2 linked regions of the Homo sapiens genome follow. The protein of the gene in region 1 interacts with the protein of each later gene in a biochemical or structural test. Each region holds a gene or a part of one and is shown on either strand. Other genes may lie near its edges.

What was found.
Region 2: the proteins of SCN1A (region 1) and FGF12 interact in a biophysical measurement, tested with the Homo sapiens proteins (one study listed by IntAct).

Annotation. Positions count from the first base shown.
Region 1 is NC_000002.12:166,041,021-166,048,020, reverse strand, and holds part of SCN1A (sodium channel protein type 1 subunit alpha), read left to right. Parts: intron 1-252; coding exon 253-394; intron 395-1,044; coding exon 1,045-1,251; intron 1,252-2,693; coding exon 2,694-2,978; intron 2,979-3,971; coding exon 3,972-4,352; intron 4,353-5,596; coding exon 5,597-5,729; intron 5,730-6,551; coding exon 6,552-6,790; exon of another isoform or gene 6,791-6,806; intron 6,807-7,000. UniProt on the Homo sapiens protein: Pore-forming subunit of Nav1.1, a voltage-gated sodium (Nav) channel that directly mediates the depolarizing phase of action potentials in excitable membranes.
Region 2 is NC_000003.12:192,163,647-192,172,507, reverse strand, and holds part of FGF12 (fibroblast growth factor 12), read left to right. Parts: intron 1-1,851; coding exon 1,852-2,050; intron 2,051-8,861. UniProt on the Homo sapiens protein: Involved in nervous system development and function. Involved in the positive regulation of voltage-gated sodium channel activity. Promotes neuronal excitability by elevating the voltage dependence of neuronal sodium channel SCN8A fast inactivation.

The sequences.
Region 1 (7,000 bases):
TTGAAAATGCAAATTATCAACAAAAATTATTTTGTAAAATATTATTAGAAATGCTGCACCATATTTTAATGATGACACCAAGTAGCTAATAAGACTATATGCAGTCAAAAGTTGGGAAATAGATTAGTTACTTATTTGTCAAACTTTTATTTTGAAATACCAAATCTTTCTGACTAGGCAATATCATAGCATAGTATCAGAGTAAAAAGGCAGCAGAACGACTTGTAATACTTTCTTTTACCCCACTTGCAGCCAATGTCCAGAGGGATATATGTGTGTGAAAGCTGGTAGAAATCCCAATTATGGCTACACAAGCTTTGATACCTTCAGTTGGGCTTTTTTGTCCTTGTTTCGACTAATGACTCAGGACTTCTGGGAAAATCTTTATCAACTGGTGAGAACTAAAGAGCCACACTCTCCATTTAAGTAAAAGTATACAAGAAAACCAATTGAGTTATGAAATTAAAACCGGATGATAATATAGTAGAAAGAGCAGAACTTGAAACGAGACTTGAGTTCCTCTATCCTATTGATTATAACACATACTGAGCAGAGTGATGCCAAGGATTGCAATTCTCTCCCATTTCTTCTTGGCTCAAAACCTGTTCCCTACCCTTCTCAGACACAGATTGTCCTAAACAGAAGGCACATTCTCCCTTCAGCCCTATCTACCCCCTCAAATATTATCCCTCAGGTGGGAAGTAATGAAAATGAAAAAGCAGATATAGAAAGATAACTTTGGTCTGTTCCTTGACTTTCCTAAAGGCTCAGGTCGTTAATGGAGGACTCCATGGCATTTTATTGACTGTTTCATTCTTGGTGAATACAAAAATTCTGCCATAGAAATCATAGTGTGAATGCATAAGCTAGAAGAGAAGGAAGAAGCTGAAGTTAAAGAAACAATAAAAAAAAAGTACAGGGTGCTATGACCAACATAATTACTATTTATATCTGAGTTTTGCTAGACACATGAGTAAATTGAAAGTTGAAGCCACCACTTAGTGAAATAATATTGAGAAATAATTCTGATATTTTTGTTTGCAGACATTACGTGCTGCTGGGAAAACGTACATGATATTTTTTGTATTGGTCATTTTCTTGGGCTCATTCTACCTAATAAATTTGATCCTGGCTGTGGTGGCCATGGCCTACGAGGAACAGAATCAGGCCACCTTGGAAGAAGCAGAACAGAAAGAGGCCGAATTTCAGCAGATGATTGAACAGCTTAAAAAGCAACAGGAGGCAGCTCAGGTAAAGCTGCCCTGTCTCATGGCACTGACCTTTTATCGTTCTGATTGTTACGTAATATTGAAGAGAAAGTGAGTACCTAAGAGCAGGTGGTTGTATGAGGAATTAATAATGATTTCTATATTTTGATGATCCACTTACTTTTATTTAGTTTAATTATTTTATTTGAGATGTGTATAATAATAACCACAATAGAACTCTCTCATGCTATTTTAATCATCTTAAGATTCTCAAAGTAAAGGGAAAATGTTATTTTGGGGTATTTTCAAGTGAGAGACTTTTATTCAATGAGTAGACTGGCATTAGGAGGAAATCATCTTTTCTTAGAACAAGAAATTATTGGTTATCATATGAAGAGTTGCTCCTCTAGTTCTTAAACATAGTCTCCTTTTTTCTTTAACTAAAAATATGTTGGCTTTTAACGTGGTTGCTTTATTACCTTTATAAGGAAGTGATCAAATAATATAATGATCTCTGATACAGCAGCATCCAATAGACATATGAATGTTACCAATCTTACACAGATTGACCATCTAAAAAGGATTACTTGTTTTTATAGTGAAGTGTTAGTCCTCACAGTGTGATAAATCATAAAATGCCTCTCCTATCTCTCTCATCTTTCTGTTTAGCATACAAACTTATTGTCTTTACTAAAGAAGAAAGTTGTTTCAGAAATATTAATTTATATGCAAGAGTAATTAATTTATCGAGGTTACCCTGGGAACAATGATAATAATAAAAAAGTGTCAACTTAGTACCAGTACAAGCTATAATCAAAAAGCATTGTTTTATTCCATGCCCATGTGCCCCTTAAGAACCAGTACTGATTTGAAGATGGTGGGGACAGTTTTTGGAGAACTGGATGTCTTATCTTGCTCAGCAGAAACTATTGATTCTCCCTTCCCCATTCTTCTGGATATTGTGGATGGGTGAGAAAGGGATTTTATAACTGTCCATAAATAGGATTAATAATATTTTGAGGGTATTGGACAATCCAATTTCAATAACTAGAGAAAGGACCTCAGGTCCTTATCCCATTCCCCTGCCTTAAACTCATCAGCTTTTCTTCCATACTCGAGTTTCTTTTTCGGAGAAAAGAAAACAACACTAATTAAATACCAATTTTTAAAGTAAATCAAATCCCAAAAAGTAATGAATTTATTTTCTTGTTGATACATGTTGGATATTTTTGAATACGTGGTCTGTGGAGCATTAACAGAGACATAATAAATGTTACCATGGAGCAAACTAAATTATCTCCAAAAGCCTTCATTAGGTAGAAAGAAAAAAAAAATCTCCTCTTATACTTGCAGAGAATCTTCTCTGTGAGATGATCTTCAGTCAGTTCAATATATTTTTTAAAAGCCATGCAAATACTTCAGCCCTTTCAAAGAAAGATACAGTCTCTTCAGGTGCTATGTTAAAATCATTTCTCTTCAATATAGCAGGCAGCAACGGCAACTGCCTCAGAACATTCCAGAGAGCCCAGTGCAGCAGGCAGGCTCTCAGACAGCTCATCTGAAGCCTCTAAGTTGAGTTCCAAGAGTGCTAAGGAAAGAAGAAATCGGAGGAAGAAAAGAAAACAGAAAGAGCAGTCTGGTGGGGAAGAGAAAGATGAGGATGAATTCCAAAAATCTGAATCTGAGGACAGCATCAGGAGGAAAGGTTTTCGCTTCTCCATTGAAGGGAACCGATTGACATATGAAAAGAGGTACTCCTCCCCACACCAGGTATGGCACTGCTGAGTTTACTGATGCATGGTTGAAAATTAAAACATGGGAGAGAGGGGGAGAATTAGAAAATGGACTCAGGAATTTTTATCAACTGAATCAACCACTGTTGTGTTATATTTAAACCCATCCCTTCTTCACATAGTTATGCAAAAACTTTACTCCACAGATATGTAAGTCTACAGCTCGGTGTAGTTAAGATAACACCAAGTTGACAGTCAGGAGAACTGGACTGTCATTCTGATACTGTCTGCTGATATTTGTCTATAACTAATGACATTTAATCTTTTTGATCCTCAGCACTTTTAAGAAAAAAAAAAATGTGGAACTCCGGATAGTCGATCAGGAATGTCCTTAGGTTATTTTATGATTTTATGTTTTTTTTCCCCCTAACTTCTTTATAAGTCACCATGCATGCTTCTGAAAATATTAGTCATGGTACACTTGATCAAAAGGCACATGACTCTGAATTTCAGAAGTATGAACTTCAAGTTCCAACAATACAATGCCTTATAGGTGAAAAAGAAATAATAATTAAAGTGATTTTAGAAAGGTGGACTAAAGTAAATTGTGAGGAGTGTTGAAAGTTTTTGAAAGACAAGATCCATAAAAACCAAGGTGGCCTTGTTAAGGTCATGGTGCCAGTGTTCACTGAATGTTTACCACGTCCATTGCCATATTCTAAGGATGTTTCCCTTTGAACTTGAGAAATGGTCGTTCAGGGTGTGTGTGTATGTGTGTGTGTGTGTGTTTCAATATGTTAAGGTTGCAATCTATCTCCTCATTCTTTAATCCCAAGGGCTAGAAACTTTCTTTTATCAAGGTAATTTAATTTAATGTGAATGCACATAAAATGAGAATGATAATCAAAAGGAATGAACCATATTCTGTTATGAATGCTGAAATCTCCTTCTACATAATCTTGCAAAATGAAATCACATTCAAATGTCCATATTAATATGACTTTATTTGTTTGCTCTTTCAAACTTCTAGTCTTTGTTGAGCATCCGTGGCTCCCTATTTTCACCAAGGCGAAATAGCAGAACAAGCCTTTTCAGCTTTAGAGGGCGAGCAAAGGATGTGGGATCTGAGAACGACTTCGCAGATGATGAGCACAGCACCTTTGAGGATAACGAGAGCCGTAGAGATTCCTTGTTTGTGCCCCGACGACACGGAGAGAGACGCAACAGCAACCTGAGTCAGACCAGTAGGTCATCCCGGATGCTGGCAGTGTTTCCAGCGAATGGGAAGATGCACAGCACTGTGGATTGCAATGGTGTGGTTTCCTTGGTTGGTGGACCTTCAGTTCCTACATCGCCTGTTGGACAGCTTCTGCCAGAGGTGATAATAGATAAGCCAGCTACTGATGACAATGTAAGGAAGTTTTAAATAGTTCAGGCATGGCTGGCTCACTATTGCTGCACCAGCCAGTGTTTCTACAGAACGGCAACCTTGAGAATGATTCCTGGTTGGTCACGCTGTGAATGCACCTGCATCTTGTAATATCTTTAATAGACTAACCAACTAAAACTTAAAACCTTAGCAGTCTCCTGCACAAACCTGAATGCATTTACTTATTAAAAGTGCTAAGGATTGATTAGACACAATAATTACTGCCTCCAGTTGGAGGATTTGCTATATACCCACACTGAATTTAGATAGCAGGACATTCTCCAAGGCTCTGGTATGAAAGTAAATGAATGATTCTATGTTTAAGTGTCAAGGGTATGTAATAAATCTTTCCAATGGATTCTTCAAGATCTCTGCTTTAGTTTAGATTTTCAAAAACACTGCTTAAGTAGATAGCTTCATTGTTACCTTAATACTCCTAGTACTCATATTTTTCTTACTAAAAAATGCTGATATAGGTCTTCTCAAAATTAAATGAAGAGACACAAATACATTATTAATACAGACAGATAAAATAATTGTCTGTGTACAAAGGTATGTTATGTGTTTGTGGATGTATACTCAGATGAGGAATTTCTAAACAGATGCTGCCTCTTCTTAGACTGTTTACTCACTTGGAAATATATCAGCATGAGGAGGCATGACTAAGTCAGAATTAGATGACTTATTGCTTTGGTACCCTGGATGAAACTGTTGTCCATGCAGCATGTGTGTGTTCTTTTTAACATAGAGTTTGTGTTGTCAATGACCATCTACATCTTGTGTCCAGAAAATAAGATGGCAGCTAAGTGTGTTGCAATCATTTATACTTCCTTAAAATTAAATAGCTACCTTCTCAAAAATCAAGTGCCTTGATCACTTGTAGGACTTTTAAGTTACTAGGCTTTTACTATTAGTTCAGAAATAAGGGTAATAACTGTTAAATATATCTCTTAAGAGTTTTATCAACTATATTAAAATTATTTTGTATTTTATAAAATTATGAAATCAGGAAGTTAACATCTTGGTTTTTGCTGTATGACTAAATGGTTAACAGTTTGAACATTCCAGGCTAATGATACAATAAGTCAGAAATATCTGCCATCACCAATTGAATATGAAAGTGCATGATGCATGTGTTTCATGAAATTCACTGTGTCACCATTTGGTTGTTTGCTTGTCATATTGCTCAAATTAATTGTTTAATGCATTAGCATTTTTTTTTACAGGGAACAACCACTGAAACTGAAATGAGAAAGAGAAGGTCAAGTTCTTTCCACGTTTCCATGGACTTTCTAGAAGATCCTTCCCAAAGGCAACGAGCAATGAGTATAGCCAGCATTCTAACAAATACAGTAGAAGGTTGGTAACAAATTCTATTTTCGTTTCAATTATTTTCACCAAACTTATATTGTCTCATTTCAAACAAATATATTTGTGAGTTGGGAATAGTGCATTCTAATGAAAAGACAGTCTAATTCAAGAGCTGTTATTTCTTATATCTACTCAGATATTCTAGAAGCCTTAACAATTTATTTTAAAATGAGTGATATTGGGACTAAGAATGTTTTCCTAACTGTGTAGCAACTCTTTGAAAATGCAGAACAAAGCATTTCTGTTAGGGGTTTCTAATCTCATTAGTCATAGTGACCCTCTTTTTGTTCCATTAGTTTAAGACTTCAGCAGTACAGCCCTTTTCAGCCTCATCCTAAGTACTCTCAAGATTGTAGAGGAAGAGCAGGTCATTTTCACAAAATAAAAACAAGCTAAAAAGATGATTCTTGGGTCACATCAATCCCTATTCTAGCTCTCATAGTCTGAGGTTGACAATGTAGAGTCATTCACATAGGGTTGCACACACAATATCTACACCACCCTAAACCATGTTCCCATTGAGACGTCACATGAAAGACCACTCATTTAACTTGAGGCCAAGTGCTGAGCCACAATGTCAGTGCATAAGACAAAAAACTACCCATTGTTACCTGGGCTCTATGTGTGTGTCTGATGAAATATCCTTGGGAGGTTTAGAGTAAACTGTAATTTTTTTAACAAGTACAAAAAAGGTTGTCTCTGTAACAAAAATGTGTTGATTACTGAAAATAAGTTTAGTGGATATGAAATAAATGTGTGTGTATAAAGTATACCTTTTGGTGGTTCTTTTTTTTTTTTTTCTTAATCTAGAACTTGAAGAATCCAGGCAGAAATGCCCACCCTGTTGGTATAAATTTTCCAACATATTCTTAATCTGGGACTGTTCTCCATATTGGTTAAAAGTGAAACATGTTGTCAACCTGGTTGTGATGGACCCATTTGTTGACCTGGCCATCACCATCTGTATTGTCTTAAATACTCTTTTCATGGCCATGGAGCACTATCCAATGACGGACCATTTCAATAATGTGCTTACAGTAGGAAACTTGGTAAGCATATTGGAAGGTAAATGTGTTTAGTCTTCAAATTTTCTGCTTGAAAAACTGTTTACATTTAATTGTGTATAGCAGTCTTTCAACCATCCTTCATGCTTCCTGGCCCCTGCAAAATCGCAATTATATTTAGCTGGCTATACTCTACTTTTTTGCCAAAAATAATCACCCTTAATGTGCTCACAAAAACTGAGAAAGGCATAGGCC
Region 2 (8,861 bases), on another chromosome or scaffold:
TATTAATATAAACATAATATTAATTTATTGCTATTCATATTATCTTACTATCTACAACCACCTTTCTACTCCAATTTTCTTTGGGGGGTGTTTTCTTGGACTTTTTTTTGAAGGGGGGGTTGAGATCCATTTCACTGTGTCACCCAAGCTGGAGTGTGGGGTGTAATCTCTGCTCACTGCAACATCCACCTCCCTGGTTCAAGTCATCCTCCCACCTCAGCCTCCCGAGTAGCTGGAAATACAGGCATCTGCCACCACACCCAGCTAATTTTTGCATTTTTAGTAGAGACGGGGTTTCACCATGTTGGCCAGGCTGGTCTTGAACTCCTGACCTCAAATGATCTGCTTACCTCAACCTCCCGAAGTGCTGGCATTACAGAGGTAAGCTACCACACCCCAGCCTACTCCAGTTTTCTTAGTCTCATTTTTCTTCGTCTATAATGTTGGAACTATTCAAAAACAAGCTGGGTGCAGTGGTACACACCTGTAGTTCCAGCTACTTGGGAGGCTGATGTGGGAGGATCTTCTGGGCCCGGGAGTTTGAGGCCAGCCTATGCAACATAGCAAGACCCCACCTCTTACAAAAAGAAAAAGAAAAAAAAGGAGAGAGGGAGAGAAAGAGAGAGAGAGAGCACTCTCTACAAATAAGGAGATTGGCATGGGAGTATCACCTACAAGGACATGGCTTCAACCAACCTATATTCATTAATATTCCTATATTCATTAATAACTTAATTCCAGGTTTGCTTGCATTAAATCATGGGAGTCTCACACTGAAATTCTTCCAGTTCATGGAGAGGAAGATGGTGACTGTGGTGAATATGTCTGACATGTAGGACTCCTGTTTAATTGCAGCTGAAGAAGATGCAATAGCATTTGTTTTTCTTCTGCTGATCTCAGAAGGGGAGAAATTTCTTCCTTCCACACAATACATTTTGTTCATGTGACATGTTAGGATATGATTTTATTGTATTGATTTTTAAATCTCATTATAAGTCACTAAACAAGACTCAGGCAGAAAAGGTGAGCCTGAGAGACTGTGATTGTGAAGCAATGAATGTGAGCTCTGGCATTGACTCAGTAGTTTCTTAAATGTGTATTTGAATTAATCACGTGACCTTTTGGTTTTCTCACTTACCAAATGCTGGAGTTGAAGTACAGGATCTTACAGTTTCTTCTGAGACTAGAACTCTCATTCTGTGTTTCACTGAGGTCAATAGTAATAGGAATTAATACTATTAGTAATTTTCTTCAATATAATAGTAATTTTTTTCTATTATTCCTGGGCTTTTTACCTGAGATTTTGATTACTAAGGAAAAAAATGTTTTAAGGAAATTAGAGAGGAAGTTACTGACTTTAGGAAAAGTGGTGATTTTCCTGACCAAGCTGTGGCTGTGTAATACATTTGTATATACAGAATAGTCTCTTCAAAAGCACCTTGTGTGCCTGTGTTTGCTGTGGTTATATTTGATTTTGATTTCCAGGATAAATTTTAGTTCCTTATTTACATGTTAAGGGTGAGTAAATGAGGAATGGCCAATCACTTTAGTTTACAAAACATATTGCTAGGATCGGAGCGCAGACTTGGCCACAGTCCTGAATGATTTTAACGTAGCTTCAAGCCTGAGCAAGTTATTATCTCTGGGCTGAAGGTTGGCTAGAAAGGCAATCATGTTTTTTGATTTTGTATGATGAATCTTTGTAACCAAAGGCTAATAGAAACTATGTGTCATTGCCTTTCATTTGTTCTTAACAGAGGACATGGATTTCAAGCTTATTGGATTTAAGCATTTGCTGATTCACCTTTAAATCATTTCTCTTTTTTGTGTCTTTTTTTTTTTTTCCTACAGGATGTTTTCACTCCAGAATGCAAATTCAAGGAATCTGTGTTTGAAAACTACTATGTGATCTATTCTTCCACACTGTACCGCCAGCAAGAATCAGGCCGAGCTTGGTTTCTGGGACTCAATAAAGAAGGTCAAATTATGAAGGGGAACAGAGTGAAGAAAACCAAGCCCTCATCACATTTTGTACCGAAACCTATTGAAGGTATGAAACCAACTGACTGTCTTTGTTGGACCCTTATCTGTGTGTTGACATCAATTCTGCTTCTTGCCCTTTTGGTCCAGAGAGTTTGCCTGGAATGCAACAGATCAGAAGAAAGATTCAAAAGAAATATTCAGAGAACACAATAGTATCTCTTCCTTTTTTTTTTTTTTTTTCTTTTGAGGCAGAGTCTTGCTCTGTCGCCCACACTAGAATGCAATGGCTCAGTCTCGGCTCACTGCAACCTCCTCCCGGATTCGAGCAATTCTCCTGCCTCAGCCTCCGTAGTAGCTGGGAATCTTTTCCTATTAAAAAAAAAAAAAAGGAAAATTCTATTACAAATACTTGGCACTTAAAAAAAATGCCTGAATATAGAAGCCGGAAAAATTTTGAAAGTAGAAAAGAAGTGGTAGTTACTATCTAGTATGCAGTTTCCTCCTTTTCTAAACCTAATAATTTCCTTTCTCAAGATACACCCTTGAAAAACAAATGATACTTTTATATTTACCGTATTGCACTGTATCCTTCTCAGGTGAGCCTATAACCTTTTCTCTCGTAATCATTTAATTCTCTGTTCATTTATTTCAAACTGACCATTAGAATAAACTTTTTTGTTTTTTTTTTTCTGAGGAAACCGATTTTTGGCAGCTAGGCTATGTTCCCTCAGAAATTCCTTAGCTAGGATGAGAGCATATCATTTGGGTAACCACATTTCCTGAATTCAGCCAAGCTTTCTACTACAGGCTGAGTAAGCTTGTTTCTCCTCTGAAAGTCACATTATAATCACTTTAAACATTGGCTCAGCATCCTCGTCTGAGGAAATGAGAAAATTGAGGCAGTGCATTGCAACTCTGTGGCTTAGTCAAGCTTGCTGTCCCCTGAATATCTCATATGGCATGGTCAGTCAATCAGTGTACACAATGCCTGGTGCATAGTACATAGCACGGTGACTGCAAACATTTAAGTCAATACTATCTTCCAATGTTCCAAGCACTGGATGAAATGTGATATTCAAAGCCCCTAGCCCCTCTCAGGACCCTCTTCACATGCTGTGTATTCAGCACATGAAATGAACTTTTCTTTCCTGCAGTATATTTTCACTTTATTTATTTATTTATTTGAGATGGAGTCTTGCTCTGTCACCCAGGCTGGAGTGCGGTGGTGCAATCTCGGCTCACTGCAGCCTCTGCCCCCTGGGTTCCAGCGATTCTCCTTCTTCAGCCTCCTGGGTAGCTGGGATTACAGGCACACACCACCACACCCGGCTAATTTTTGTATTTTTAGTAGAGACAGGATTTCGCCATGTTGGCCAGGCTGGTCTCAAACTCCTGACCTCAGGTTATCTGCCCACCTCGGCCTCCCAAAGTGCTGGGATTACAAGCGTGAGCCACCATGCCTGGCCTATTTTCATTCTTATTGGGCTCATTTTGTTCATCACCCCTGCTCCTTTAGTTTTTATCCATTTATCTCATCTGCCTGGAAAATGTCTATTAGTCTTTGGAAAAAAATAATTCAAGAGTCAATACTTCCATGATGGCCTTCTTGACTTTCTTCAAGTAGAACTAAACATTCGGTCAGCTTGTCATTGCATACATTTCTCTCCCATAGAAATTATGACATTAAATTTGCCCAATGCCACTCTGTCTCCTCTTATTCATGGTTAGCTCACTCTTTGAATGAACAGAACATGTTTTATTTTTCTTCATATCTCCCTTTGTCTTCTATAATAGTTGGCATATCATAGAGAGATATTTGATAATCAGTTGTCTGAAAAGTGAACATGTGAATGAATTAATGAATAGAAAACTATAAAGACAAAGAAGAATATATGCGCCAGAGAACTTTATGATATTCTTAGAGGTGTGACATATGTTTACTCAGAGCAAAAGTAAAATGTTAAGTGATGCAATATATAGGATTTATATTGGGACTCAGAGAAAAAGGCTATTATTTTCCCAAAAAGTAAGATATCATTGAGAAGCTAATATTTAAACTTACCTTCAGGGCTAGGCCAGGTTCCTGCAATTTGAGATGAGAGGTAGGGATTAGGCAGACAAAAACATTCCAGGTGCAGTGTGAATAAAGGCAGGAAAGTGCCTGCTTCTTAGGGTTAAGCAAAGGGTACCTGAGAAGTAAGTAATATTTTCACAGGGAAATATATGGATTCTCAAAAATGAAATGTTTGATGAATTATGCTCTTAATTATTGCATCATTTTTATTTGTTCATTTACATTGATTTTCTTCTTGTTATAAAAGTAGTACAAGGTCATTAACAATTTTGGAAAATTTAGGAAAGTATGAAGAAAAGAAATCCACGTGTTGTGTTTATTCCCTTTACGGATAATGCCCTTTATATTCAACTTCACCCTCATGACCCCACTTAAAAATACACCTAGGCCAGGCTTGGTGGCTCACGCCTGTAATCCCAGGACTTTGGGAGACCGAGGTGGGCGGATCACGAGGTCAGGAGTTTGAGATCAGCCTGACCAACATGGTGAAACCCCGTCTCTACTAAAAATACAAAAATTAACCGGGCGTGGTGGCACGTGCCGGTAATCCCAGCTACTCAGGAGACTGAGGCAGGAGAATCAAGGAGGTGGAGATTGCAGTGAGCTGAGATCACGCCACTGCACTCCAGCCTGGGTGATAAAGCAAGATTCTTTCTCAAAAAAAAAAAAAAAAAAAAATTTTATATATATATATATATATATATATATATATATATATACCTATAACCTACCCTCCTAATTTTAGCTGCTATCTGTACTTTGGTTAATCAAGTTTCCTCTTGGGTCTGGATGAGCATGTACGTGTACAACTGGACATTCCTATATGGATTAGAATTAAGGTTGTCTTCACACAACACAAACTCATATTAACAGCAGCTTAATCATATAAAGTTTTTTATTCTCTCACAAAACAAATCTAGAGACCAGCTATCCTAGCTGGTACTGTGCTTTTCCAATTGGTAGGGCCTTGGCTGCATCCAGCTTTTACTACCTCTCTCCCAGTGTTTTGCTACGGCTTATTTACAACTGTGCACTGCACCCGGAACACAACCACACATGCTGGCCCTGGATCTGCCCTTCTGCCCATGATCCAACCAGCATCTTATTCCAGCCAGAGGGCAGAGGAGAGGTGAAGAAGACAGAAGGAAAAGCCAGGGCCAGTTTTCTTTCCAAGTTGTCCATGGTAACTGCCATATGCTACTTATCGCACTGGCCACAACCTAGTCAGGTAGTCACACTTAGGTGTAAAGAAGCTAAGAATGTAGTCTTTTTTTTTTTTTTTTTTTTGATAGCCATATACCAAATAAATGTTCTGTGACTAGGGGTTATGGCACAATGGGTATTGAGACACTAAAAACTCTGCTTCAGGCTTCCATCCTCTTAATTTTAGAATATCTCTGATTTCCTAATTTTCTGATTGACATCTTTTGGTAGATTATCGTGTTTTTACTTTATGTTATTGACTGATCCTTTAGAATGATTTTCTTTTTGTTCTGGGAAAAAAAATGCATTCTAAATCAGATTCACTAATACTTTGATTCACTTCCAAGGATTTTTGTCTCTCTAGGTGTGAAGCATATAGAATATGATGATAATTACTTCCAAAAATGAAAAAAAAAACTTAATTGGTTTTAGGCCAAACACCTTCTCATTCCCTATAAATGTCTTTATCTTTTGTCTTAGGGAACTAACTTTATTGAACAATCTTAGCTAACAGTTTTATAAATGCTTACTCTGTGCAGGTGCTATTCTAAGCACGTCTCAATTACTGTCTCTTACTTTCCATTCCATTTGTACGAAGTAGGTTCCAGTATTATCCGCATTTACAAATGTGAAAAATGAAACACAGAGATATTGAGTAATTTGTCCTAAATCATGCAGCTAGCAATTGGCAAAGCCAGAAATGAAACCAAAGCATTCTGACTTGAACAATCAAGTTCTTAAACCCCATTTAAAACTGGTAAGACAGGCTACAGTCTGAGGTCTGAGAAAGATGTAGATGTAACTTCAATATAGTGGGACCTAGTAAATGATCTTGAATAAATGTCTCCTAATTGCTTCTCTTTTTAAAAATCTGCAATATATCCCTACCCCTTAGAAATAAAAGTTCTTGCAGATTAATGGAGATCATCACACTCTTGTAACTGACATGAAACACATGAAATTGGTTGGTTCTCTTCTGCCTCCTATGTGCTTTGATGTCCTTATAATACAGAAAATGTGAACAATTACCTTATGATTCTCCATGCAGTTATACATTATATCCTTAAATGATTTTAACAGGTTACCATTACTATCAAAGATATGTACACTTGAGGTTGTGTCAGGCATTAATCCACTGGACATTGAAACCTTTCTCCTCGCTGCTGGGATACTCAAATTATTTTTGCTGCCACCATTACTGCTATTACTAGTCTTACTACTTCTGTATGCAGTTTATCAATTTACTATTTGCTAGCCAGGTTGCGTATGTTATCTCTGTTAAGCCTCACAATAGTTCTGTATTTTTATCCTCATTTTATAGATGAGGAAACGTAATTTAAAGTAACTAAGTAACCAGTCCAAGACCACAGGGCTAGATAAATACAGAACTGGGGTTGCAGTCCAGGAACCCTGATGTCACGTAACCTCTGTACTATGTTGCCCTTCAATCTGAAGTAAGCCTGTGAATATGCAAATACTCAGAAAAGTCAGTGATAGCAAAGCAGAAACCTTATACTATGATGCAATTTGAATAGTAAACTAGTTTTAAATCATGCAAAATTGAGACAGGAATACATGATATGATGAGAAACACATTGGTAAACAATCAGATAAAACAGTTAATGGAATGCCATGTTCAAGCTAGGCAAGAAAGAATTAACAATGCATCACTTCTTTTCTGGTGAATTCTAACAAGGTTTATTTCCACTCAGCAAAAAAAAAAAAAAAAATTGGACCAGATGATTTCTAAAGTTCTTTGGCAATGACATTGTGTGGCAGTCGTTATAAGCCCTTCACTGTAAAACCATGTTCCTTCATAGAACCTAGCCTAGAATTTACATGTAAAACTGGTCTAAACATATTTTCTTTATTGAATTATTGAAAAAATAAATTACAGCTTTATGAGCTATTTCCATTATTTGTGATTTTTTTTTTTAATGAAGGGATAGGATGAAAGGCATCCTAGCCATAACTTACATTTAAATAGATTTTAGGACAGACGCAGTGGCTCATACCTGTATTCCCAGCAATTTGGGAAGTCGAGGCAGGTGAATCACTTGAGGCCAGGAGTTCAAGACCAGCCTGGCCGACATGATGAAACGTCATCACTACTAAAAAATATGAAAATTAGCCAGGTGTGGTGGTACACACCTGTAATCCCCGCTACTTGGGAGGCTGAGGCAGGAGAATCACTTTCAACCCAGGGAGTCGGAGTTTGCCAGGAGCTGAGATTGCACCACTACACTCCAGCCTGGTCAACAGAGAAAGATTCTGTCCCAAAAATAAGTGAATAAATAAATAAATAAAGTTTTCGATAATATTTTTCCATAGGGCAGGTATAAAGCACATAACTAGATGACACTTTTAGAAAACGATTAGAAAATGATAGCATAAGAGATTAGCTAACTTGCTGCTAATGGGTTAACCAAAAAAATTATTGACTATTTTGTTTGTAATGTTTAAAGGCATCTTTGTAACCCTGTAAGTCCAATGGTAATACTGTTAACATCCTAACAGAGTCCAGCACTGCACGGTAAATGAGCCCTTCCTTTGTGAAGGGAATTGTCCTCTTAGGGAGGAAAAGCCAAAGTAGGGTTTTTTTTGGCTTTGGGTTTTGCTTTTGTTCTTTTGTTTTTTCCTGCTTATTTGTTTTTCACATATGTCTGCCTTTATCCCAGTCCTGCTGGTGTTGTCTTTTGAATGTCACGATTCCCAAAATTAAGCTCTGCCAGTTTGAGGATGGTTAAGTCCTACACTGATAACATGATAATAATTACCCACCAGCCCATTTCCCTTCACTCTTTCACGTCTCATCCTGTGTTTAGAGAACAGGAGCGTTGATGAGGGGTTTCAGGGTCACCTATTCTGATAGATGGCCTTGATGTTTAAGCACATTACTATGTACATTGCATATAAACCTCTACTTACATGGGTCCCCTCCCCTGGAATTTTGGACAATAGCACAGGCTTCCTGATTCTCAATTCTGCCCTTTCAGAGTATTGTTCAAAGCACAGATAAGTAACTTCCCCAGATGTAAAGTGTTTTAGTGGTGACCTCCCCCTTTAGCATCAGATATAGCAGTCAAATACTCTTTGACAAAGAACAAAATATAGTCTCCTCCTTTTCTCCTCCCTCCTCCTTCAAGAAGCACATTGCTCAGCTACTGCAGGTGGCTGAGTATTTAGGATCTGGTTCTTCCCTTCTGAAAAAAAAAGTCTGTGTACTTTGCAAAGATTTAAGCTTCAAGAGCTGAGACCTGGAGAAATAAATATATTTCCAAATAAGATAACTAAGAATCATTTGAGAGCCATCCATACAGAAGTATTAAACTTGGAATAAAGGAATATTGATTTATTTCTCCCAATTTATTTGGTAGTGGGGAGACAGTACTAACACACACACACACACACACACACACTCACACACACTTGGCCATATACATGGTTTCCATTTTCTTTGTTAGAATTGGTGCTTTAAGCTCATAGAATCTGATTTAAGACTCAGCAGAATGTAAACTGTCATTTCCCAAACATCAGTACCAGAACCATCTGTAGTGTTCCTAGAAGCTAACAGATTCTCAGAGCAAATCTCCAAAGTGAT